Linked DNA regions of Homo sapiens: region 2 is linked to region 1. Evidence: fine-mapped expression QTL. A gene starts in region 1. The other region holds a variant in brackets. All regions are shown on one strand. Distances are between the middles of the regions. Region 1 holds the start of ATF7IP (activating transcription factor 7 interacting protein). Region 2 has its middle 100 kb from the start of ATF7IP.

What was found. PIP is the estimated chance that this variant, and not a neighbour inherited with it, causes the effect.
Region 2: its variant is fine-mapped to the expression of ATF7IP in whole blood (TOPMed, PIP above 0.99).

Annotation. Positions count from the first base shown.
Region 1 is chr12:14,359,404-14,371,731 of GRCh38, reverse strand. It overlaps ATF7IP (activating transcription factor 7 interacting protein), which reads right to left and starts at 6,050. Exons shown (of 15, transcript NM_018179.5): 1 at 5,905-6,050. LOC124902884 (a long non-coding RNA gene) reads left to right here and starts at 4,542. Exons shown (of 2, transcript XR_007063220.1): 1 at 4,542-6,383. RefSeq lists enhancers at 4,335-4,474, 5,831-5,890, 6,361-6,420, 5,652-6,469.
Region 2 is chr12:14,254,868-14,267,706 of GRCh38, reverse strand. It overlaps the pseudogene GNAI2P1. Among named protein-coding and RNA genes, the nearest start is that of ATF7IP, 100 kb to the left of the region's middle. RefSeq lists a cis regulatory region at 9,308-10,237. The variant C/G (reference allele first, on the strand shown) is at 6,710.

The DNA.
Region 1 (12,328 bases):
ATTAATAAAATCATCAATTAATAATGAACATTCTATAACTACTGATTCAGCTCTGGGAATACTGATTCCCAAACTAAATAGCCTCATAACTAAGTTTATAAATTATTGCTTCTAACAGTAGAAATATAACCCTCCTTTACTATCATGATGCTGGACATCATTTCTTTTCCCTACCAAAATGCATTTCTCAAGTAGCACTTCTAATTTTTTACTCCTCATCTGTTATAGTCTAGAAACCAAGTATAATAATAAACCAGAACTAGAAAAAGTTCTCAACTTTCACAAAAAAGTAAAATATCTAAGCTGTTATAAGCAGTGTTGCTTGAAAAAGACCCAAAGGCAGGGATTTTTCATTAAAAAAGATAAACTGCTTAAGAAAGGCCAATAATATCTTAATATTTTATATCCATTTTCTAGATTTATTTTCATAAAGCCAATAATATTTTATCATTTGAGTTCTATATTTCCGTGATTTCTTCTTTTCATTCCTCCACTAATTTACAAGTTTAGTTCAATAAAAATGTTATTTTGGCAATAAACTGACTCCTGAATCAATTATTTAAAAGATATAAAGTAGAATTACAGCTGAAATACATCCTTATTAATCAAGATAATCTTTTTCAATGCAATCAGCATAAAAAAGAGATTTAATGGAAAATAAATTTATTCTAATAATTAGGGAAACATCCTTATCAGAAAATATAATAATTTAATGATACCAAGGAAACTAAAATAAAAATTTTTTATCTTTATTATGAGATTAAGCCTCACCCTGGCCAGAAAAGGAGTAAGGTACCTTTTCAAATTCCTCCATCAAAAAAAAAAAAAATTGTCTGTGTTTAACAAAAAAGGATTTTGATTTCGAATATTGTACAATACTTTATTTTGCGACTTATTTTTCCCACGTCTAACTTCATACTGATACTACTTTTATGTCATCATGTCCTAAACCAGATTGAAAACAGAAATATAACCTTATATTGTCTCCTAATTCATCCCTACTAAAATTATAGCTGCACCAAGAAAACATCCTCCTGAAAAGTCACAGATACCACAAATTCTCCCAGAGTTCCTAGGAAATAGTGCTTTTTGGTAGTCTACAGGAAGTGTGTAATACCGATGAATTAAAAAAAATAGTATAAGGTTATAAATTCACCCAATGTAAATTTAATGGAATTGTAACCAAAACCATTAGCTGGCTTTTTTTTCTTAATTAACCAAATGAACCTAAAGTTGATCTGCAAAAACAGTCAAAATCAGCTATGAAAATTGTAAAATAGAATTGTGAGTGGGTATTGGATTTTATATAGGATATAGCACTACAAACACATATTTAAATTGTGTACCGTCCTACAGCAAATAAAACAATGCAATAATGCTCTAAGAATAAGGCCCAGATACAGTCATTGTCAACCTCTGTTTAAACTTTATATCATATATTCTTTTGAGAAGCTAATGAAAGCTATCACTTTTTCCCCAGAAAAATGCACATAGGAGGCCAGGCGCAGTGGCTCACACTTGTACTCCCAGCACTTTGGTAGGCCGAGGCAGACGGATCACCTGAGGTAGGAAGTTCGAGCCAGCCTGACCAATATGGAGAAACCTCGTCTCTACTAAAAATACAAAATTAGCCGGGCATAGTGGCACATTCCTGTAATCCCAGCTACTCAGGAGGCTGAGGCAGGAGAATCATTTGAACCTGGGAGGCGGAGGTTGCGGTGAGCTGAGATCGTGCCATTGCACTCCAGCCTGGGCAACAAGGGCGAAACTCCATCTCAAAAAAAAAAAAAAATGAACATATGCAGACTTACATAAAATTGTGTATATCAAGGGATCGGTGGAACCCCTAGAGGACAATGGACCCCAGGTTAAATATACCTAGTATATGAATCAGAATTGTTTGCTACCAAAGCAATAAGAAATGGATCAAGTCTATGGAAACTAGATATCTGGAAAAAAATGGAAACTAGCAACTTATCTTAACACACAATATGTCAAAACACAGATATGTCCACATAGATGTAAAAGTATTTTTTAAGTTTATTAAAACTTCCAGAAAAAGTTCTAGTAAAAAATTAACAAAACACATGAACAAGGCTGTGCACGGTGGTTCACACCTGTAATTCTAGCACTGTGGGGGCCAAGGCAGGCAGATCACCTCAGGTCAGGAGTTCAAGACGAGCCTGGCCAACACGGGGAAACCCCGTCTCTACTAAAAGCAGGGCATGGTGGTGCACGCCTGTAATCCGCTACTTGGGAGGCTCAGGTAGCAGAATCGCTGGAACCCAAGAAGAGGTTACAGTGAGCCAAAATCACACCACTGCACTCCAGCCTGTGAGACAGAGCTAGACTCCACCTCAAAAAACAATAATAATAAAATAAAATACAATATAAACATACAATTCACCTTACAACAGGTAATATTTTCTGGGCAGACAAGTGCTGTAGAAATCATAAAGGAAAAAGGAAAGGCAGTACAGGCTGGACATGGTGGCTCATGCTTGTAATCTCAGCACTTTGGGAGGCTGAAGTGGGAAACTCTCTTGACCCCTGGAGTTCAAGACCAGCCTGGGCAACATAATGAGGCTTTGTTTATTAAAAAAAAAAAAAAAAGAAAAAATTAGCGGGGTGTGATATCCTTCACCAGTAGTCTCAGTTACTCCAGTGGTGGGAGAATTGCTTGAGCCTGGGAGGTCGAGGCTGCAGTGGGCAGAGATCACTGCCACTGCACTTTAGCATGCGCAGCAGAGCAAGATCCTATCTCAAAAAAAAAAAGGGGGGCAGTACATTTTACTACATAAAAATGCAAAACTTCTTAACATATACAATCATAAACCACTTAAAAGGTAATTTTAAAATTACTGTGACAAATATTAAAAGCTAAGGACCCCAAAGCCGTAAGTAGCTGTTACCAACAAATAAGAAAAACAGTAACACTCATCATAGAAAAATACACAAAAAGTCAAACAGCTAATTCACAGAAAATGAAAAAAATGCATATATAAAACAATAACAAATTCAACTTCACTAGTTATCAAAAAAAGTTAATGAGCTACTATTTTTCACCCATCTAATTGATGGTGGTATTGAATATGATAAAAAATGCTTTTCAAAAAAAAGTTTTTATCAATTTTGCAAATTACTTTAAAAGTCCTTTGAAAGTAATTTCAAAGAAATATTCTGAGGTATAGTACAAGAACGTTCACTGTAGCATTATTTTTAATAGAGAAATGAGCAAAAAGCAAAACAGGAAACAAAAAATGAAAGGTTTAATAAATCACAGTAAATTCTTCTTAGAGATAACAATAATATGTAACCATTTTAAAATGTGTTTAAAAAGAACATTTGATCATGTGGGATATTATAATAAAGTATCATGCAACCATTTAAAGACATATTTTAGAAGAATAATGAAATGGGAAAATACTCATAACATTAAAAGAGTAGAAATGAAATTATGGTACCAATGAAAAACTAATTAATAAACATTTATAGATTGCTCAATCATGGAAAAGTGAAGTCACAAATCACCAATACCTTTAGAGTGGTTATTTCTAAGCATTGTTAATTAATTTTCAATATTTTCCAAATGTTCTATAATGAATAAGTTTAAAAATATTTAAATACATTTATCACATATGCAAAACCTAATTTAAAGAAAAAATAGTTCTAATTGTTTAATAACTCAAACCTGTCTTTTCTAAACTACATATAAATTTTTAAATTTACAAAACTACAAAGATTTTAAATAACTTCAGTAACTTGGTATTCATTCCTGGAGTAACCTAGTCTTAATATTTATATATGTTGGATATGTGTCAAAATTTTGTGGCATCATAACCACCAAACTAAAATTTTAAAATATACTTGTTATTGACAAAGTACTAATAAACAAATAGTTGGTGTTCAGGCAATTAATTAATCTTATTAAGTTTACATGATTATATCTGCCTTGTAAGAAACATGACAGCAAAATCGTCCCATCAATAAATATGTTCTTCATATTCAAGAGCATTTTCAAATACCTCTTACTACCTTCAATATTAACCTAAAAAGCAATCATCTGTATATTCAAATGAAAACATACGCTTATATACACCAAACTATTTCATTTTTCTGGAAATGTAAAGTGTACCATGCCCTAAGATCAAAGATCAAAGTTCTTTTGTTAACCGAAATATTTATGTGTATGTTCAACTCGAAAATGCCTGAAATAGCATGTGGTAGAAAGGGGCTGCTAGGTAACCACTCCAGAAACATAAAAGGGAGAAAATTACACAACTGCTCTCTAAATATACTTCTGTGTAGAAGACCTCAGAGATCCAAGAATTACATCAGGTCAAATATTCTCTTGAGAAAAAAAGAAGAATCTTTCCTACCTCCATTCTATCTCATATGTGACGTCATTTAAAAATCCACCAACCAAAAGTATTACTTTCAATTACATCTAGGTAATATTTACTAATGGTATTTGTTTTAGGCAATAAAAATTTCCCTAAATTAACCGAGATTATAAAGCAAGAGGCACGTCTTCATTTGACAGTAGACTGATTCAAACTTAAAGAGTTATAACCAACCAAGAAACCAGTTGTTGTATATATGAACCACAAATGAAGTCTATGGAAAACATTTGCAAGTTTCTTTGCTTAGTAAGAAAGAATTTGCACAACGGGAGAATCATATCAAATCTTATATAACTTCCCCCAATTGTGTTACATAAGATTTAACTATAGTTGACACTACCATTTTAAACTAATCAGTAGCATATTTATAATTACCTTCCCTAAAAAACTATTAATAAAACCAGGAGCACACTTACAATTAAAAAATCAAACACAACTGTATCTTACACACATGCATACAGTACAGTGTTTAAAAGAAAAAAACAGATTTTTTTTATTAATGGTCCACTTTCTTCAAAGAGGCCTCAGGGTAATGGATGTTCTTTCTAGAATTCTTCATCAGAAAAATTTACCAAATAAATGTTATAGCTTACATATCATAGCAAACAAAAATGCTAAGAAAATGAGTTGATTAATTTCAAAAGTAACAATAATCTAGCTGAAGCAGTAATGAACAAGTCACCTAAGAAACTTAAAACATGTAAAATTCAAATGCCCAGAAACATACAAACTGATTAAAATTAAAACTTTATTTACTTAGGATCAAACATTTAAAACCAAAATAATCCTCAGATTGAGATTTCATTTTCGATTATACTGTAATTTCTTCCACTATTCCCGTTCCCCCAATATTCCCAAAACTAAAATTGTTTCTGTTTTGTAAACATTCCACACATCCATAACAGAACAGGTAAAAATAGGGTTAAAAATGTATTTGCAAATATGCAGTTCAAATAAATGCACTTCCCGTGAGAACACCACTAGGTGCTGATCTTTACCACCGTAAATATAAACCTGAATCCAGTAATACTTTAAAACTGAAATTATAATCAAGAACCACAAATGAAAATCATTTTTACAGAAAATTAAGTCCACAATTTTTCAAAAAATCGAAAAAACAGAGAAGAGCTTGAGGTCGGCCCAGGAGTACAACATTAGAGTAATGTTTTTCTTGAAAATTGTGAGAATTTAAGGTTAACACAAAGAAACCCCTCAAGAACGAGGAAAATTAAATCTAGAACCCAAATGGCGTCCAACAAGAACATTAGATCTTGAAAATGAATATTGCGCTTGCGCAGCCACCGCCCCGCCAGCTGCACAACTGCAGCTAGAGCCCGACCCCGCAAGATCACGTGCTCCCATGCAGCGCCGCCCGCAGCTCCGCAACCGCGCAGGCGCAGACACAACTCCCGCAGCCGCCATAATGCGGTCTTGACTCTTCAGAAATACAATAGTAATTTAAGAAAATGTGGTTTTAACAGCCCCTGGGATTCACATATACCTTTTGGGGCGGAAGCTGAGGGAGGGGGAACCAAGTTCCTTCCTACAGAGCCGTCCCGCGCAGCCGTCCCCGACGTTGCCGCCTCAGCTTTTCGCGCGCTTCAGTCGCCGCGCCGCCGCTGCCACCGCCGCCGCCTCCGCAGATTCAAAAACAAACCCGCTTCTCCCTTGCACGCGCCGGGGCCGTTATGCAAATTAATATGGGCGGGGCTCCGGGGGGTCGTGCTATGTACCCCGCCCACTGTGCTATCAGCCAATAAGCTCAAGGACTAGCCATTCCCCATGCAAATTCTGGTTTTTTATTTGAATGAGGGACATTGGCCCCGCCTCCTGCGTGGAAAAGAGAAGGAAGCCCGAGGTGGTGGCGCTGCGTCTCTCAGTTGCAGTGTGAGGTGTGTTTTTTGAGTGGATCTTCCTCAATCAATAAGTAGCACTTTGTGAGCGCCCTCTATGAGGCTTAGAAAAGAAAGAAGGAAGGAGGTAGGTGAGAGTTTAAAGAGCAGAGGGAAAGATTTTCATAAAAGCCAGGAGTATGTTGATTTATTCATCATTTATGTTTTAAATTCACAGAATGTACTTTGAATTGTATTAATAATGAAGGAATGAAAAAAACATACTTTCTTTCAGTTGCTTGGTAACAGAGCAAGCACTTTTTATCATACTCTCTCACCAGAAGTTGTATTCATCCCATTTATTCAATTTCATGCTGGGAGTCGGCCTTTAATGAATTCCACAGGAGGTAGTGGACAAGTCACTGCCTTACTGGTTAAGAGATCTGGGTTCAAGTTCAACTACTGCAGCTTCCTTGCCGGTTCCTCGGAATAAGTGTGTTACTCAGTTTTCTCACCTGTATAATGGCAATCATGACTATAGTTGAACTAGGTTGGAAGCACTAAATGATAGAATAAATGTACATATGTTTTGGCCAGGTGCCGTGGCTCAGGCCTGTAATCCCAGCACTTTGGAAGTCTGAGGGGGGGTGGATCACCTGAGGTCAGGAGATCAAGACCAGCCTGGCCAACATAGTGAAACCCCGTCTCTACTAAAATTACAAAAATTAGCTAGGCATGGTGGTGCGTGCCTGTAATCCCAACTACTCAGGAGGCTGAGGCAGGAGAGTTGCTTGAACTGGGACCTGGGAGGCCGAGATTGCAGTGAGCGAAGATCTCACCACTGCACTCCAGCCTGGGCTACAGAGCAAGACCCCTTATCAAAAAAAAAAAAAAAAAAAAAGAATAAAAGTACATATGTTTTGCAAGGCAAGAATAGCCTGAAAATAATATTAGATGGTACCGTGTGGTTATTGTTTTTTTATGTAACTTCTCATTATATGAATGTATTGGTTCAGTATTTATTTAGCAATCACTGTGTTGTAGATCTGTTAGGTGCCTGTCCTCAAGAAATCTGTACTCTAGTGAAGAAGACAGAAAACTGAACAAGAAATTTTTGTAACTAATAAGAAATTAGAATAGGGTTGTTAATACTTATTTTTATAACTGGAACCATTCAATTTACTTAAAATATAAGGTGGCCTTTAGAAATATCACCTAGGGCCGGGTGCAGTGGCTCACGCCTGTAATCCCAGCACTTTGGGAGGCCGAGGCGGGCAGACCATGAGGTCAGGAGATCGAGACCATCCTGGGTAACATGGTGAAACCCCGCCTCTACTAAAAATACAAAAAAAAAAAAATTAGCTAGTCGTGGTGGCACGCGCCTGTAGTCCTAGCTACTCGGGAGGCTGAAGCAGGAGAATCACTTGAACCCGGGAGGCAGAGGTTGCAGTGAGCCAAGATCACGCCACTGCACTCCAGCCTGGGCAACAGAGTGAGACTCCATCTCGAAGAAAAAAAAAAGAAATATCACCTAATCCAGACCTAGAGAATTAGAAAAGCCTTCCTAGAAGAGGTCATCTCTATCATGATAAATGATTTAATTAATTTTTTGCCTAAAAGTTGGACCTCATTGGGACAGCAATGAGGAATCATTTAAAAGGTTTTAAGTCGGGATATAACACAATTAAATTTGCATTGTTTAATCGCTAAATGTTGTAACATCATTAGCACAGTCCTTAGCATATACTCAATAAATTATAGATGCTCAATTATAATTTATTTATTATAATTTTCATAGTACATCAGTGCTCAATTATAAGTAGATGCTCAGAAAATTAGAAATATTGATATTAAATGTTACACTCCATAATAATAAGAGAAATTGGATTGGAATACTAGAGCCCATTATGTTTCTCTTTTTATGTCTTCTGTAAGCATATAAAAAAGAATCATTTTTATAATAGTCTATTCTTTTTTTTTTTTTTGAGACAGAGTCTTGCTCTGTTGCCCAGGCTACAATGCAGTGGCGTGATCTCAGCTCACTGCAACCACCACATCCCGGGTTCAAGCAATTCTCCTGCCTCAGCCTCCTGAGTAGCTGAAATTACAGGCGTCCACCACCGCGCCCAGCTAATTTTTGTGTTTTTAGTAGAGACAGGATTTCACCATCTTGGCCAGGCTGGTCTCAAACTCCTGACCTCATGATCCACCCGCCTCGGCCTCCCAAAGTGCTGGGATTAAAGGCGTGAGCCACCACATCTGGCCTTCTTTCTTTTTTTTTTTTTTTTTTTAAGACAGTCTTGCCCTGTTGCCCAGGCTGGAGTGCAGTAGCACGATCTCAGCTCACTGCAACCTCTGCCTCCCAGGTTCAGCGATTTTCCTGCCTCAGCTTCCTGAGTAGCTGGGACTACAGGCACACTCTACCACGGCCGGCTAATTTTTTGTATTTTCAGTAGAGATGGGGTTTTGCTATATTGGCCAGGCTGGTCTCGAACTCCTGGCCTCAGGTAATCTGCCCACGTCAGCCTCCCAAAGTGCTGGGATTACAGGCATGAGCCACCATGCTTGGCCTATGATAGTCTATTCTTGATTATCCATGCTAATAGCAAATGGAAAAATAATTCAGCATAACCACAGATTTATCAGTTTTCTTAGATATGCTCATATTCTAGACTTGCCTCCTGAAGACTCCAACTAGACAATTTTATTGGATTCGAATCTCCTCAGATATCCTCAACCACAGTTACAGTCTCTTCAGCCATGCAAACCCGCTGGTTGACCTAATCAACTATTCATTGATTTGTTCAATGAATACAATATTTATAATGTCTCACAAACTATTCTGGGCACTGGGGATGCCCAAAGGAAATGACACTGTTTCTCATGGGGAAAGAGTTGTAAATACAGATAAACATTATGAGATCATTAATATTTTGGTGGTATGTCTTAAGCATAAAAAAATTCTAAAATGAGAGAACCTAAATCTTCCTCATACTATATGGGAAAACTTCACAGAGGAAGTGATACTTGACCTGACTTATGATGTAGAACTTTGTACCTAGGCTGTCAGACTAGGTACAAAAGAAAGTATTCAAGTTAGAAAATAACAGAAAATACAAAAACAATGAAGAATGAAAAAAGCTGAACTTAAGACTTCTAGGTAGGACCACATTTAAAATATTTATCAATCCCTATATCACTGACCAATCAGAATGGAAGCAGGCTTGAAGACTTCCCTCCCCCCACCCTATTTTGTCAGGTGTTAATTCTTTAGTTGTAGGATCTTGAAGAGGTCCAGAGGCTCTTCAGCTGGGGACTGAGCCTGACTTGGTGGTATGAAGGGTGTGGTAGGATGGGGCAGCTACTTACCAGTTAGTACAAAAGGATTTTCATATTTTATCTACCATTATGTTTTTATTGGTATATTTAGGCTAAAATGATACAGGCTAAATATAATTTTCCTAGGAAAAAGTGCTAGAGTAAAGTAGGATCATAGAACCTGTCTCACAAAAAAAGAAAAAAAAAAAAGACCTAAACTAAAATAATAAATATAAACCAATACATTTCAGTTGTAGCAACTGAACAAAGAAAACAGAACTTTTTAAAAACAGCATAGGCCGGGCGCGGTGGCTCACACCTGTAATCCCAGCACTTTGGGAGGCCGAGGTAGGTGAACCACCTGAGGTCAGGAGTTCGAGACCAGCCTGACCAACATGTTGAAACCCCATATCTACTAAAAATATAAAATTAGTCCCACGCCTGTAATCCCAGCTACTTGGGAGGTTGAGGCAGGAGATTTGCTTGAACCCAGGAGGCAGAGGTTGCAGTGAGCTGTGATCATGCCATTGCACTCCAGTCTGGGCAACAAGGGCAAAACTCCATATCAAAGAAAAAAAAAGAAAAACAGCATAAACTCCGAAAAGCCATTGAAATGGAAAACTGAAGTTTCTGAGTACAAAATAATAAAACAGGAAGCTTAATCTAGTGCTTTCAGGTTCTGAAGGCTTACTACCTGAATTGAAACCTTGGCTCTACTTCTTACTTGTTTAGTGTCCTGAAATTCTCTACGCAAATGTTTCCCAGTCTATAAAATGGGGATGATAAAAATAGCCCTCCCGAGCAAGCACAGCTCATGCCTGTAATCCCAGCACTTTGGGAGGCAGAGGCAGGTGAATCACTTGAGCCTAGAAATTCCAGACCAGCCTGGACAACATGGCAAAACCAGTCTCTACAAAAAATACAAAAATTAGGCTGGGTGCAGTGGCTCATGCCTGTGATCCCAGAACTTTGGGAGGCCAAGGTGGGCGGATCACTTGAGGTCAGGCGTTCAAGACCAGCCTGGCCAACATGGTGAAACACCGTCTCTACTAAAAATACAAAAGTTAGCCAGGTGTGGTGGTGCATGCCTGTTATCCCAGCTACTCGGGAGGCTGAGGCAGGAGAATCGCTTGAACCTAGGAGGCAGAGGTTTCAGTGAGCCAAGATGGTGCCACTGCACTCAAGTCTGAGCAACAGAGTGAGACTCGGAATCAAAAATTAATTAATTAATTAATTAATATAAAAATTAGCCCAGTGTGGTGGTGCATGCCCGTGGTCTCAGCTACTTGAGAGGCTGAGGTGGGAGGATCGCTTGAGTCTGGGACGTGGAGGTTGCAGTGAGGGGAGACTGGGCCACTGCACTCCAACCTGGGTAATGGAGTGAGATAGTCTCCAAAATAAAAATAAAAAAAATATGGCTAGGCGCAGTGGCTCACGCCTGTAATCCCAGCACTGTGGGAGGCTGAGGCCAGCAAATCATAAGGTCAGGAGTTCAAGACCAGCCTGGCCAACATGGTGAAACCCCCGTCTCTACAAAAAATACAAAAAAAATAGCTGGGCGTAGTGGCAGGCGCCTGTAATCCCAGCTACTCGGGAGGCTGAGGCAGGAGAATCACTTGAACCTGGGAGGTGGAGGTTGCAGTGAGCCGAGATCGCACCACTGCACTCCAGCCCGGGTAACAAAGTGAGAGACTTCGTCTCAAAAAAAAAAAAATTATATATATCCCTGATCTCTTAAGGTTATTATGAAGACTAAATTCTGGTAAAATACTTGGAGTAATACTGGATATATAGTGATGGCCCAATAAATATTATCTAAGAGTAGTAGTAATAGTAGTACTTGTAGGAGTAGTACTAATACATAGTTCAGCTTGAACAGTTTCTATCAGTACTCCCCACCCTCCCATTAAGAGAGAAGATGAATCAACAACAACCTGATCATTTTTATTATTGTCCTCAAACTTGCAGAGAAGTTGAATGAGGTGTTAAATAGGCAAATTTGGAAAAACTTAAGAAACAACTCTTGAGAATAGGAAAATGACCTCCATGATCCTCACCTTCTGGTGATCACAGTCTCTATAATCCTCTTCTCTTGAGCGAGGGCAGAACCTGTAACTTGCTTTTAGCCAAGAATTTTGCAGATGTAATAAAGAACCAAATAAACTGATTTGGGGTTAACCAAAAGAGATATTATCTTGGGTGGACCTGACTTAATCTGGTAAAAGCCCTTTGAAAAGAAGCTGGATCCTCCCTGAGGAGAGAACTTTTCCTTGCTTGCTTGATGAAGAAAGCAGCCATGTTGAATAAGCCTATATGGAAGGTTACCACAAGTGGCCTGTAGGTTCTTTGGGTAACCTCTAGGACCTGAGAGCAGGCTCCAGACAACCAGGAGCAAAAAAAAAAAAAAAAAAAAAAAAAAGCCCGGTCCCTCAGTCATATAGTCCTGAGGAAATAAAAGCTACCAACAAACTGAATGAATTTAGATTTTTCTCCAACCAAGCCCCCAGATGAAAATACAACCCAGGTAACACCTTGATTGCAGCCTCTGAGACCCTGAGCAGAAGATACACCTATGGCCCAAACTCCTGACCCACAAAAGCTGTGAGATTATAAATGTGTATTGTTTTGTTACTAAGTTTGTAGTAATGTATTACCCAGCAATAAAAAACTAATACAGGAAGTAATTAGAGAAGGGAAAGGGCATCATTACCATCTTCCAACATAGATAGGCTACCTAAATAGGTGAAATGGTTCTTATTAGAAGATATTGAACTA
Region 2 (12,839 bases), 100 kb after region 1:
GTGGGGTTTTTTTCCTCCTTAATTTGCATAATGAATGATAGGCTCCTCTCTTGGTGAAATCCAGTTAAAATTCCACCATAGTAGAATCTCAGGGCATCTTTCTTTGTTTTGTTTTATTTGAAATATAAAGGAACAAGTTTCCCTCTTATTTCTTTGGGAAGATATCTGCCTTAGAGAAATAAAGCCACTGGCAGTGGATTTGCATAGATTATTCCTTCTCCCTGAGCACAGATATGTAAATATATTCCAAGAAGGGGCTTGGTGACTTTGATCTACTCTATTTAAGATTAATAGCAGCCGGGGCACGGTGACTCACGCCTGTAATCCCAGCACTTTGGGAGGCCGAGGCGGGCGGATCACGAGGTCAGGAGATTGAGACCATCCTTCCTAACACGGTGAAACACCGTCTCTACTAAAAATACAAAAATTTAACCAGGCATGGTGGCATGCGCCTGAAGTCGCAGCTATTCAGGAGCCTGAGACAGGACAATCCCTTGAACCAGGGAGGCGGAGGTTGCAGTGAGCCAAGATCCTGTCATGCCACTGCACTCCAGCCTGGGTGACAGAGTGAGATTCTGTCTCAAAAAAAAAAAAAAAAAAAAAAAGCCCTGGCCGGGCGCATGGCTCACGCCTGTAATCCCAGCACTTTGGGAGGCCGAGGCAGGCGGATCACAAGCTCAGGAGTTCGAGACCAGCCTGGCCATTTGGTGAAACCCTGTCTCTATTAAAAATACAAAAAAATTAGCCAGGCGTGGTGGCGGGCACCTGTAGTGCCAGCTACTTGAGAGGTGGAGGTTGCAGTAAGCTGAGATCGCACCACTGCACTCCAGCCTGGACAACAGAGCTAGACCCGTCTCAAAAAAAAAAAAAAAAAAAGAATAATAGTCCTTTGTGTAGGCAATAGTCCCAGCTACTCTGAAGTCTAAGATGAGAGTATCCCTGGAGCCCAGGTGTTGGAGGCTACAGGGAGCTATGATCACACCGCTGTATTTTAGCCTAGATGACAGAGCAAATAACAGTCCTGATATTTTAGTACTCTTTTTTTGTAAATTTAAAAGAAAAAAATAAATAACAGAATAAGAAATTAGAAAATAATAATTACATGACCAGGACCAAACTTCACATGGAGACTTTCCAAAGTATCTCACAAAATATACGTTTTTCCCAATGAGCAATCTGAGATATGGTGAAGGGTTTGTGAAGGTAAATGAATACCTATCATCCTCAAACACAAGGCTCCTTCTGTGTCTAGGTGTGTTTTGCATTGGTGTGGAAGCACTGTATTTTTGTTTGTTTGTTTGTTTGTTTTTGAGACAGAGTTTTGCTCTTGTCGCCCAGGCTGGAGTTCAGTGGCACGATCTCACTCATTGCAACCTCCGCCTCCTGGGTTCAAGCGATTCTCTTGCCTCAGCCTCCCGAGTAGCTGGGATTACAGGCGTGTACCACCAGACCCAGCTAATTTTTGTATTATGAGTAGAGACGGGGTTTCTCAGTGTTGGTCAGGCTGGTCTCGAATTCCCGACCTCAGGTGATCCACCTGCCTTGGCCTCTCAAAGTGTTGGGATTACAGGCGTGAGTCACCATGCCCGGCCTTCACTGAATGACTATTGATTGAAGACATTAACATTGATTTTATTAATAAAAATAAAAATTAACACCTCCATAGTACTTTCTCTATATGGTTCTATTCTAAAAGGATATTAGCCAGGTGTGGAGGCTCATACCTGTAATCCCAGAGCTTTGGGAGGCCTGAGCTCAAGAGTTCAAGACCAGCCTGGACAACACAGTGAGACCCTGTCCCTATAATTTTTTTTTTTTTAATTTGCCAGGCATGGTGTTGTGTGCCTGCAGTCCCAGTTACTTGAGAGCCTTAGGTGGGAGGATCCCTTAAACCAGGAGTTTGAGGCTGCTGTAAAGTATGATCACACCACTACACTCCAGCCTGGGTGACAGACTCTGTCTCAAAAATAAATAAATAAATATATCAATAAATAAAAGCATTATTAACTCATTTGTGAATTGAAATTATCATCACCAACCGTACCCTATTTTACAGATGAGAAAACTAAGGCACAAAAAAATTATTTAAAACGTATCTGGTGGCTGGGCACAGTGGCTCACGCCTATAATCTCAGCACTTTGGGAGGGTGGCTAATTTTGTATTTTTGGTAGAGACGGGGTTTCTCCATGTTGGTCAGGCTGGTCTTGAACTTCCGACCTCAGATGATCCGCCAGCCTCGGCCCCACAAAGTGCTGGGATTACAGGCATGAGCCACCACGCCCGGCCACACCAAAGGTTTTTTAAAATCAACAAATTATTTGGAAATTATTTGAATAATTTTTTAAAAATTGCACAAAACTTATATGGTAAGCAGTTTTATACATACACATACATATATAACTGTATATGTAATTGAATAAGCAGTTTTATACATATATAATTTAAATAATTTAGAAATGGAGATTATATTTTTCAAATGTTTACATTTATATATTGATATCTAGGTTAATTTACAATATGTATTGTGGGTTAGATACGTTGATTTCATTCCCTACAGGAAATATCAGCAAACCTCATTCAAACAGACTGAAATGGTAAGGGAAGAAATTTACTTTTTTTCACATAACTAAGTAGTCCAGCGTAGGTTCCAGGCATGGTAAGATCAGTGGCTCAGTGATGTCATCAAAATTCTTTCCATGTCTGTTCTGCTTTCCTCTCTGTTAGGGTTTACCCTTAGGCTAGATCCTCCTGTTACTCAATATGGCAACAGCACTTCCTGCTGTTACATCTGTGGTGGTTTACAATATGTCCACAAATTCCTTAATATTCCTCCTTCCCTGCAAAAGTGCAGCCTAATTCCCCTCCTCCTAAATGTGGGCTAGACTTAATGACTTCCTTTAATGAATAAAATGAAGTCGAAATGATGGTGTGTTGTTCCTAAAATTAGGACATAAAATATAATGGTTTCCTCCTGTTCTTTTTGTTGGGATCACTCTGGGGAAAGCCAGCTACTACGACAGGAGGACATTCAAGTAACCCCATGGAGTGGATCACAGGGTAAGTAACTGTGGTCTTCTACTAAGAGCCAGCAATGAACTGAGAACTTATGCCAACAGCCATATAAGCCATCTTGGAAGTATATTCCCTAACCCCAGTCAAGCCTTCAGATGAATGCAGCCCTGGCAAATGTCTGGAATGGAACCTCATGTGAGAATCTGAGCCAGAACTGTCCAGCTCAGCTGCTCCTGAATTCCTGACTCACAGAACCGTGAGATAATAAAATAATTGTCATAAAAACATCCAGAGGGAGAAAGGCACATCCTTTCTCTCTCTCTCTGAGAAACTGCTGAGACTTCCTGGCAAACTTACTAAACCAGTTAGTGATTAGGAACTAATATTACCATGATTCTTATACTGAACCACCCTGTGGAGCTGGAGCTGGAGTCAGTGTCTTCTGAAGCCTAGGACTGTGTAGAAGACACAGCTTCTGATGGGAAGAAATGAGGGTACAGAAACAGATATCGACAGGTGACTAATCAAGCTAATTTAGGTTGTACTGTATAACAAATATCCACCAATTCTCTCAATGGCTTAACACACCAAAAGTTTGTTTCTTCCTCATACTACATGTCTAATGTGCCTTGGCAAGGAGATCTTGGCTCAAAGAGGTTTCAACTCAACACTTGCTTCCTTGATCTCTCAAACAGTGACAAATTGTTTATTAGATCTGAAAGCTTTTTCCTGGAAGTTACACATATCATATTACCTCCTCTTTTACCTTATTGACAGAAGGTCTAATTTCAAAGAGGTCAGGTCATACAATATTACATTGTGACCAGAAACTGAAATTTTTTTTTTTTTTTTGAGACAAGAGTCTCCGTCTGTCGCTCAGGCTGGAGTGTAGTGGCACGATCTCAGCTCACTACAACCTCTGCCTCCAGGGTTCAAGTGACTCCTGCCTCAGCCTCCTGAGTAGCTGGGACTACAGGCGTGCGCCACCACACCCGACTGATTTTTGTAGTTTTTAGTAGAGATGGGGTTTCACCATATTGGCCAGGCTGGTCTCAAACTCCTGACCTCATGATCCCCCCGCCTCAGCCACCCAAAGTGCTGAGATTACAAGCGTGAGCCACTGTGCCCGGTCCGAAAACTGAAATATTTTAACATCACTGATGAGTACCAGCAAGGGAAAATCAGGGTCTGGATCTGGGTGTGGTGGCTCACGCCTGTCATCCCAGCACATTGAGAGGCTGAAGCAGGTGGATAGCTTGAGCCAGGGCAACATGGCGAGACCCTGTCTCTACCCAAAAAATAGAAAAATTACCCAGGCATGGTGGCACATACCTGTAGTCCCAGCTACTGTGGAGGCTGAGGTGGGAAGATTACTTAAGCCTGAGAGGCAACGGCAGTGAGTTGTGATTACACCACTGCACTCCAGCCTGGGCAACAGAGCCAGATCCTGTCTCAAAAAAAAAGAAAAAAAGAAAAGAAAATCAGGGTCTGGAAAACGTGCTTACTAAGGGACTCGAAATTGGGATGTTACAACAGCAACAAACTTTCTCTACTTCAGCCCCTACAAGTCCCCGTATCTTTTAAGGAATCTCTCTTTCTTCTTTGCCCTTTAAGAGTCAAAGTGGTTAAATAGATTGGATGTTAGGGTATGTGGCACAGGGATAAATCCTAACTTAATTGCTGCTAGATCTTAGCCTAGCATGTGTGAACAGGTCTTAGCAGACTACTTGAAAACTTTAGTGAAAACATTAGTACTGACTCATGATCATGTATCTAATAATTACTCTTCTAATATTAGGTCCAGTAATGTGTAGTTTTGCTAAGAAATCTAAAGTTATAAATAACATGTTGAAATTTTAAAGTGCTTTGGATGTTGAAATCTGCATGTCAATAGCTCACCTTTTCTCAGGGTTTTCGTGCTAGTAGCTTAGTTATTATCCTGATAGGATGTTTGGAAGTTTCTGGGTAAGGAAACAGATCTGTTCTTCTGCTGGGCTAGTCCACCTGTTTCAGGTCCTGAAAAGCTACTGACCTAGTGGACTTCAGACTCCTTGCTTTGTCTTAGCGTTTGAGTTCTTTTAATTCTGGCTGGTAGCTGACCTGTTTGTTAATACATCTGGAATGAAAAGTCTGTTTTTCTAGCCAGGCGCGGTGGCTCACGCCTGTAATCCCAGCGCTTTGGGAGGCCGAGGTGGGCGAATCATGAGGTCAGGAGTTTAAGACCAGCCTGGCCAACATGGTGAAACCCCGTCTCTACTAAAAATACAAAAAATTAGCTGGGCATAGTGGTGAGTGCCTGTAATCCCAGCTACTCGGGAGGCTGAGCAGGAGAATCTCTTAAACCTGGGAGACAGAGGTTGCAGTAAGCCGAGATTGGCGCCACTGCACTCCAGCCTGGTGACAGAGTGAGACTCTGTCTAAAAAAAAAGAAAGAAAATTCTGTTTTTCTGACTGCTAGCTCTGGTTTTATTCTAGCTAACTCCATCTCATTTCTCAGCTCTTTCTGAGAAACTCACTGGCTATATCTCACTCCACTCAACCTTACTGTTTTTCATGTCCCTCCTCTTTTCTCCCATATCACATCCTCTTTTTCCTATCCTTATAAAGGATATGCCATGTCACTCTGGAATAGCTGACTTCCTGTGTATCTTCCCAGCCTGTAAGCTCTTTGAAAGTACATTCCACGCTTTATGTGATTTTTAAAACTCACAAGCCCAGCGTAGCCAATAGTACCATATTGCCTGGTTGTTAGGAAGTTTTCAATGAATGTTGAATTAATGTTGAATACAAGAATCAAACTTTGGGGAGGAAGATTATAACAATGTAAGAGTCTTTAGAAATTCACTACAAAGATCCATTAATTTGACTTCCTAAAGCGGGGTAAATTAACTTTATCTACTGAAATGTAAGTGTCTTTCCAGGCAAGGTGGCTCACGCTTGTAATCCCACCACTTTGGGAAACCAAGGCGGGTGGATCGTGAGTTCAGGAGTTCAAGACCAGCCTGACCAATATGGTGAAATCCCATCTCTACTAAGAATACAAAAAAAATTAGCCAGGCGTGGTGGCACATGCCTGTAGTCCCGGCTACTCGGGAGGCTGAGGCAGGAGAATCACTTGAACCCAGGAGGCAGAGGTTGCAGTGAGCCGAGATCATACCACTGCACTCCAGCCTGGTGACAGAGTGAAACTCTGTCAAAAAAAAAAAAAAAGTTTCTGTGGAATGGACAACATATTTGGGCCTTAATTTAATATCCATAGTTCATCCAATTAACTCCTTCCAAGGGTTCTCTGGCAGTGGTTCTTAACTTAGTCCCTGGGGGTGGGGGATGGGCAGGGACTGCATTTCCTGTCACCAAGTGACCTTAGGGCAACAAAATCTCTAGCGTAGACTGGAAAGTGTGCGACCCATGACTTCTCCAGTAATGAGGGACCCTCTCTCCTCCATCACTGCACAAAGGGACTGCTGCAGAGGTGTAGGTCTAGTTCTGGCTTTTCCGATTTTGTCATGGATTGGGCTCCTCGGGGACACCCAGACACAGAGAGCAGGACTTTTATTGCCACGAGGTAGCCGAACTCTTAACCTTTCTGGTTTATATAACTATTAAAAAATGACATTATTTGTAAGTGTGGACACTGATGGAAAATCGTCGGTTATTAGGCATACAGTAACTGCTGTTGTTCCTGGTCTTGCAGGC[C/G]TGGACTGACTACCGCGATGTTACCCTCATCTTTAAGGGCTGTCACACCCTAGCTCAGAGAGAGCAAGGGACAACCTTCAATGCGCTGGGTGTAGTCAGGCTGTAGATCATGTGAAAGCCTGGAGGAGTACAGTCACCAGCTGGTTCACTGTCTTCCTTGCAGCCCACTTAGCAGTAGTTTCGGAACTCGCTGGAGGAGGCTTGCGGGGGTGGGGCTGGAATGCCTCCTGCATTCCTCCTCGCCTCTTCCTCCTGGCTGCATTTGCGGGTGCGGGGGAGGGGCGAGCGCAGGGAGCAGAGCGCAGCGGCTGAGTCCAGCCAGCGCTGGTGGCTCCCAAGGCCCCGAGCACGTGGACACCAACCCTCCTCACATTATCTGGTAGGTTTATCACAAAGTCGGCAAAGGCAGGGCCTCCTTCACAAAGCCTTCTAAAAGACGCCCTGGTTCTCAAATTACAGTTTTGCAGAGGTCAAGTTCATTCATGCTTACTAATCTCTCATCTATAAAATGGGGATAAAAGAAAAATTACAGCAAATATTATTCACAAAAAGGAACCTTGCCTAACAATGCAGCGTTCATTTCCTGTGAAGAGTGGAGAGGAACTAAGTAATTGCACTTTGTTGATTTTATTTCAGCCAGATAACAAAGAAAGATCCTATACAACAAATGTTTCCCCTTTGTTCCCCGCCTTGTAAAGAGTCATTTCTCTATGGAGAAAGACTCCCCTTTGTGCATTCCCTAACCCGACAGGCCACGGGGATTATGAAGAGCGAGCTCTCTGGAGCTGTTTTCCTGGTTAGAGACATTGTTCTGGAAAGCAGACTGGGTTGCCATGGTGACGGCTCCCGGGGCCTCGCCCTGCCCCTCTCCACCCCGCCTGCTTGTGCTGCCTCCTGGTACCCCGCCAGGCCCGATTTCAAGTGTTCCTCCCCGCACAGCACGGAAATGGCAGGGAAATTCTAAACTCTTTTTCCCAGAGTGCCTCTGGGGGCGAAAGGCAGAAAAAAAAAAATCCCTTGTCAGACCGTTCTGAATTGTCCTTGAAAAAAACAGGCATTAGATTGAAAGCTTGTTGAAGGCAGGAACCAACCATGTTCTCATCACTGAACCAATTCTTCCCCTCTCGCTATGACCATCTTCCCCCAGCCGGAAGTAGGCTGACACGTAGTAGGATCTGAAAAAGGGTTTATAATCCGTTGCCAGTGAGGTGGCGGGTATAGTATCAGCTTAAATGTATGGATTTTGGAGCCAGAATCTTTACCTGCCACATTATAGATGTGTAACGTTGGTAAAGTACCGAATCATTCCAAACTTCATTTTCCTCATCTCTAAAATGGGGACAATAATTCCTAACTTGGAAATGTACGGTGTGTATGTTATAATTTAAGATAGGAAACACTTGGTACTGCCTGGTTTATAGTGAGTTCTCAGTATTATGGTTATTACTGTTTTTTAAAATTTATTTATTTATTTATTTTTTGAGACAGAGTTTCACTCTGTCGCCCAGGATGGAGTGCAGTGGTGGCATCTCGGCTCACTGCAACCTCTGCCTCCCTGGTTCAAGCAATTCCCCTGCCTCAGCCTCCCGAGTAGCTGCGATTACAGGCGCACACCACGACGCCCAGCTAGTTTTTGTGTGTTTTTTTTTAGTAGAGACGGGGTTTCACCATTTTGGCCAGACTGGTCTCAAACTCCTGACCTCAGGCAGTCTGCCCCCCTCGGCCTCCCAAAGTGCTGGGATTACAGGCGTGAGCCACCACACCCAGCGGTTATTACTGTTATCCTCTCCAGCCTACTGCATCTTCATGTGGGGCAATTCATTGTTCCCTACCAAAAAAGAAACAAATCCTAAAGAAAGAAAAGACCTATCAGAATCCCCAGCAGTCCAGATCTAATAGTTAATGAAATGGACGTAGAAGAGCTTCATGAGTTACTTATTTGTGTAATAAACATTAAATAGAAAATGTCAGCAACATGTTTCGTGTGTTTGATTTTCGCACATTAATAATGTAGAGTGGATTGTGTTCCAATTTTCCATCTATGTATCCATGGTAAAAGGAATAAAATAGCATTTTCACATCTTTCAGCTGATCTTCTTCCTTTTCCCTTCCCCAGTCTCTTAGGAATATTTCTGAAACCTACAGCCCTGCTTATAATTGAGCCTGTGCATGGGAGAGTCGTAAGCTCCATGCCCTGCCCCCCAGCTCGCACCAGGGCTGACTTCAGTCAGAGAAGCCCTGGGTCTGGAGGCATTTAGTGCCTCTGGAAGATTCTAAACATCTTTGGACACTTAGGGGAGAGGGAATTTACACACACACACAGTGTCCCACCAGGCCGACCTGGACTTTGTGTACAACTCCTAGGAATTTTTGGTGGGGAAGGGCTGTACTGGTTCGGGAAGGTTCTGAGCCAAACTTGGCCACAGGCAGTGCACAGCCTCCACAGCTGCAGACCACAGTTCAGTCTACTAGACAGTGTTAGAGGAGCCATTTCAGGGTGGGACTGATCAGATCTTAGGAGGTTCTGGCACTTGGGGGAGGGGAGCGGAGGACAGGATTATCATTCCATTGTTACCTAATACTGCTGTGTCTCTTAGTTGAGAAAGGCATGTACGGCTTGTATGTATTTCTGGACGCAGATGAAAAGAGAATGTTGACAGTATTGGGTATGGGTACTGCCATTTCATGCATAGGGCTGAAGGAGGTCCGATAATGACTTGTACAAGTGCCACTTGTATGTGGGGCGCTCCCACAACGCCTATGTTCAGTGTATTTTGAGGTTGTGCAATACAGCAAAGCTGTTGGAAAGGTGGTGTGAACTGCAGGGTGTGAAGTGCTGTTCCCTCTCCTTCAGACCCTCTCGCACATTCCCCCCCCCACCACCAGGCACACACATGAAACTACAGGAGACACATAATCCTCCCCTCCCCCAACATTGCAGACAGCTTTCTCTGAAAACTGATACCCTGAGGCCCTTTTTCCCTTACCAGCCACAATTAGGAGCAGCAAGACAGAAAATGCGGACTGGATTATGGCACAGAGACAGTGCTGTGTGATTTCTCTTTCTGGAAGAGGCCACTGTCCACGCTCCAGGCCTTATATTTCATCTGACTTTGCCACTACTGGCAGCAGCTTTAGGCTCCAGCGAGTCCAGGCCAAATCCAGTTCTTTCTGCGAAGTCCATGCTGGATTTTCTCTTTCACCCTAGTGAAGTCTCTGCCGAGGCTGTTGTTCTCAATCCAGCTCAGAAACTGGCTCAAACCGCCCTGAACTGGATTTGGTGGCTGTTGAGACACAGTTTCTGCCTCTTTGTTAGGGCGGATCCGGCCTCATTCGCGCTTCAGTTTCCCTCCCTCCTGTTTTCCCAGAGTCATCTACAGCCATTCCCCTCCCCCGGCCTCTCCAGTTTGGCATTTTTTTTTTACCCTTCCCTGGGCCAAGACCCCATAAAGCAGATTAAATTCTTTAATAAAAAAGTGGATTTAGATTGTAAACCTTCTGCTTTTATTACATTAAGTTCTGCTTTCCTCAAAGTTGTTATCTAACCAGTTGACATGGTGCCCTTAAAATCTTGGCTCGCATCCTAACCTAGAAATAACTTTAATTTTCACTCTGGATGGGAATAACTTTAAATTTCCCATCAAAGACTGAAGGGCTTTGGTGCAGTACATTGTTCATTTCCGTTTTGTAACCATATTTAAATTAAAACAATTTATTCATTTCTTTGCTGATAAATGACATAGTATGTGTAGAATTTTTAAAACAGTCACCTATACTGGCTTGTCTATTGCAACTGTGCAATTCCTAGAGGAAGAACTAAAGAACTGGGATGTTTTTGGTTTTCGAACCTGTAATTGTAACCCTGAATCCGATTCTATGAATTGTACAGTGACGAAGGCTGTTGGGGGAACACGTGGGGACCATTCCTGACAGAATACCGGTGGACACAAAACTGGGAATGTGACGAAATAAGGAGGATAGGACACGCCTGGGTTTTTGCAAGTTCCCTTTATAGAAAATTTAAACATTTCTTATGTTTTGGAACTAGATAGAGGTGACGGTTCCATAACACTGTGAATGAGGTAGATGCCACTTAATTGCACACTTTAGAAGGGCTAGTTTTATGTTATGTGGATTTTGCTTCAATAAAAAAGGGGCTTTGTTTTAAGAATTTCTCATTTTCTTTTTGTGTTTTTTGAAAATTCAGAGAAGAGACAGATAATAACCCTAATCTGGGTGTGGCTTCGTTGCGTGCTTCACGACTCTCTGGTCTCCCTCTGCTGGCCAAACTGCGCAACATGTCACCATGTCCCAAGGCCTCTTGAGAATGTCTCAATTTTATGTCGAAGCACAAATGCAAGGCTACGTTACTAAGAATCACTCTCCAAACCTGGTTTCATGTGCATTTTACGTGTGCAATATACTGAAAGAAGAATCAGATGTTTTGTTTCTATGATGTTACATAGGATTAATTATATATTAACGATTTAAAATTTGCCCCTAAGTCTCAAAACAGAGACAAAACCGTTGTCATTTCCCCTGGGCTTAAAACCAGAGTGAAATTGCTCATTTAAGTGTTTAGTTTCAGTAGAGCATAAAGCCCTGGAAAAAAAACAATTACAACAGTAGATATGGAAAAGCTATTTTTGTACACAGGAGGGGAGGGGTTGGCTTTGTCTAGTGAGTCAGTACGCTCAGAAGGATGTGGGTGCCGGTTTGGGCTAAGATAATCTTCAAAATGTATGTTAAAAGGACGTGAATTCATCAGTTGAATTTGTTTTTGTGAGATTTAAGAGTCATCAGTTATTGTGGGAAGGCACACAGTATATGCTACACGGGATTTTCCAAAATGTTCAGTATCAAAGGGGATTCAAGAAGGGTAGAGGTCAAGCCATCCAAACTGGCCCTCTGATTCTTAGAGATGCTTTTATTTTAGGATCTTTGCATTTTTCACTCCACCTTGAAATCTCCACCCTCCCCCCCCACCCCTTATTCCTCTCTCCTTTCACTGTCCTCTGAGTTCCTCCTACCCTCTGGTCAAGCTTTGCCTTCCTCAGAGGCCTTCCTGAATGCTTGGTCCAAAGTAAATTCCTTATACCTTCTTATCATCTTACATGGCAACCTCTTTTTTTCTGTTGTAGCACCACTGTAACTTACAATTATATATATTTGTTTTCTTGTACATTGGCTCTCCCCCTTCACCCGCAACTAGCTTTCTAAGTACCCTTGGGCCGTGTCTGTCTGATCAAAACTGTATAACAAGCATAGGACCTGGCAAAATGTTAGCAAGGAGCAAATATTTGTTGAACAGATTAATTAAATTCAAATATTATTTCTCTGGTCCCAGTCCACTACTTTCTGGCTTCTTCTTTTATACCAGTTAGTTCTTTTACGATTCAGTCTGTTTTCTTACTCTTGTGAACTTTCAGGAACAACTGATTTATTTCAGGGTTCCTCTTTACATAATGAGAGCTACTGAGTAGAATAGAATCTTCACAGCTTCTGGGGGGTACCAGAAAGATGCCCAGAAAGGGGGTACCATGGCCATTACTGGCACCTCAGACAAGGGCAGGCTTCAAACAGGGAGGCCTGTGGCAACCCCTCCCCTATGTCTGAAGCTGAGGGGATGGGGGAGCTAAGAACAAAGGAAAGAAGAGAAAAGTGTCCAGGGAACAGGTGGGGACCATGGTCTTCTTGCCCCATCTTCCTCAGGGGTTGGGGGGTACAGAGTTGGTGGTGGCCCATCCTGCTAGGTCCCACTGCCCCTCAGAAGAGGCCCCAGTCCTTCAGGTTGTTCTTGATGATGACGTCGGTGATGGCATCAAACACGAACTACGTTCTTGGTATCGGTGGCGCATGTGAAGTGTGTGTAGATCTCCTTGGTGTCTTTGTGCTTATTCAGGTCCTCAGACTTACTCTGGTTGTAGCTGGCTGCCTCATCATACTTGTTGGACCCTGTGTACTCAGGGAAGCAGATGGTCAGGGGCTGTGTGTGATCTTCTCCTCCAACAGCTCCTTCTTGTTGAGGAAGTAGATGATGGACGTGTTTGTGAACCACTTGTTGCAGATGCTGTCAAACAGCTTTTATCCCCTAAGAAAAGACACACTAGTCTTATAATTCTTACCGTCT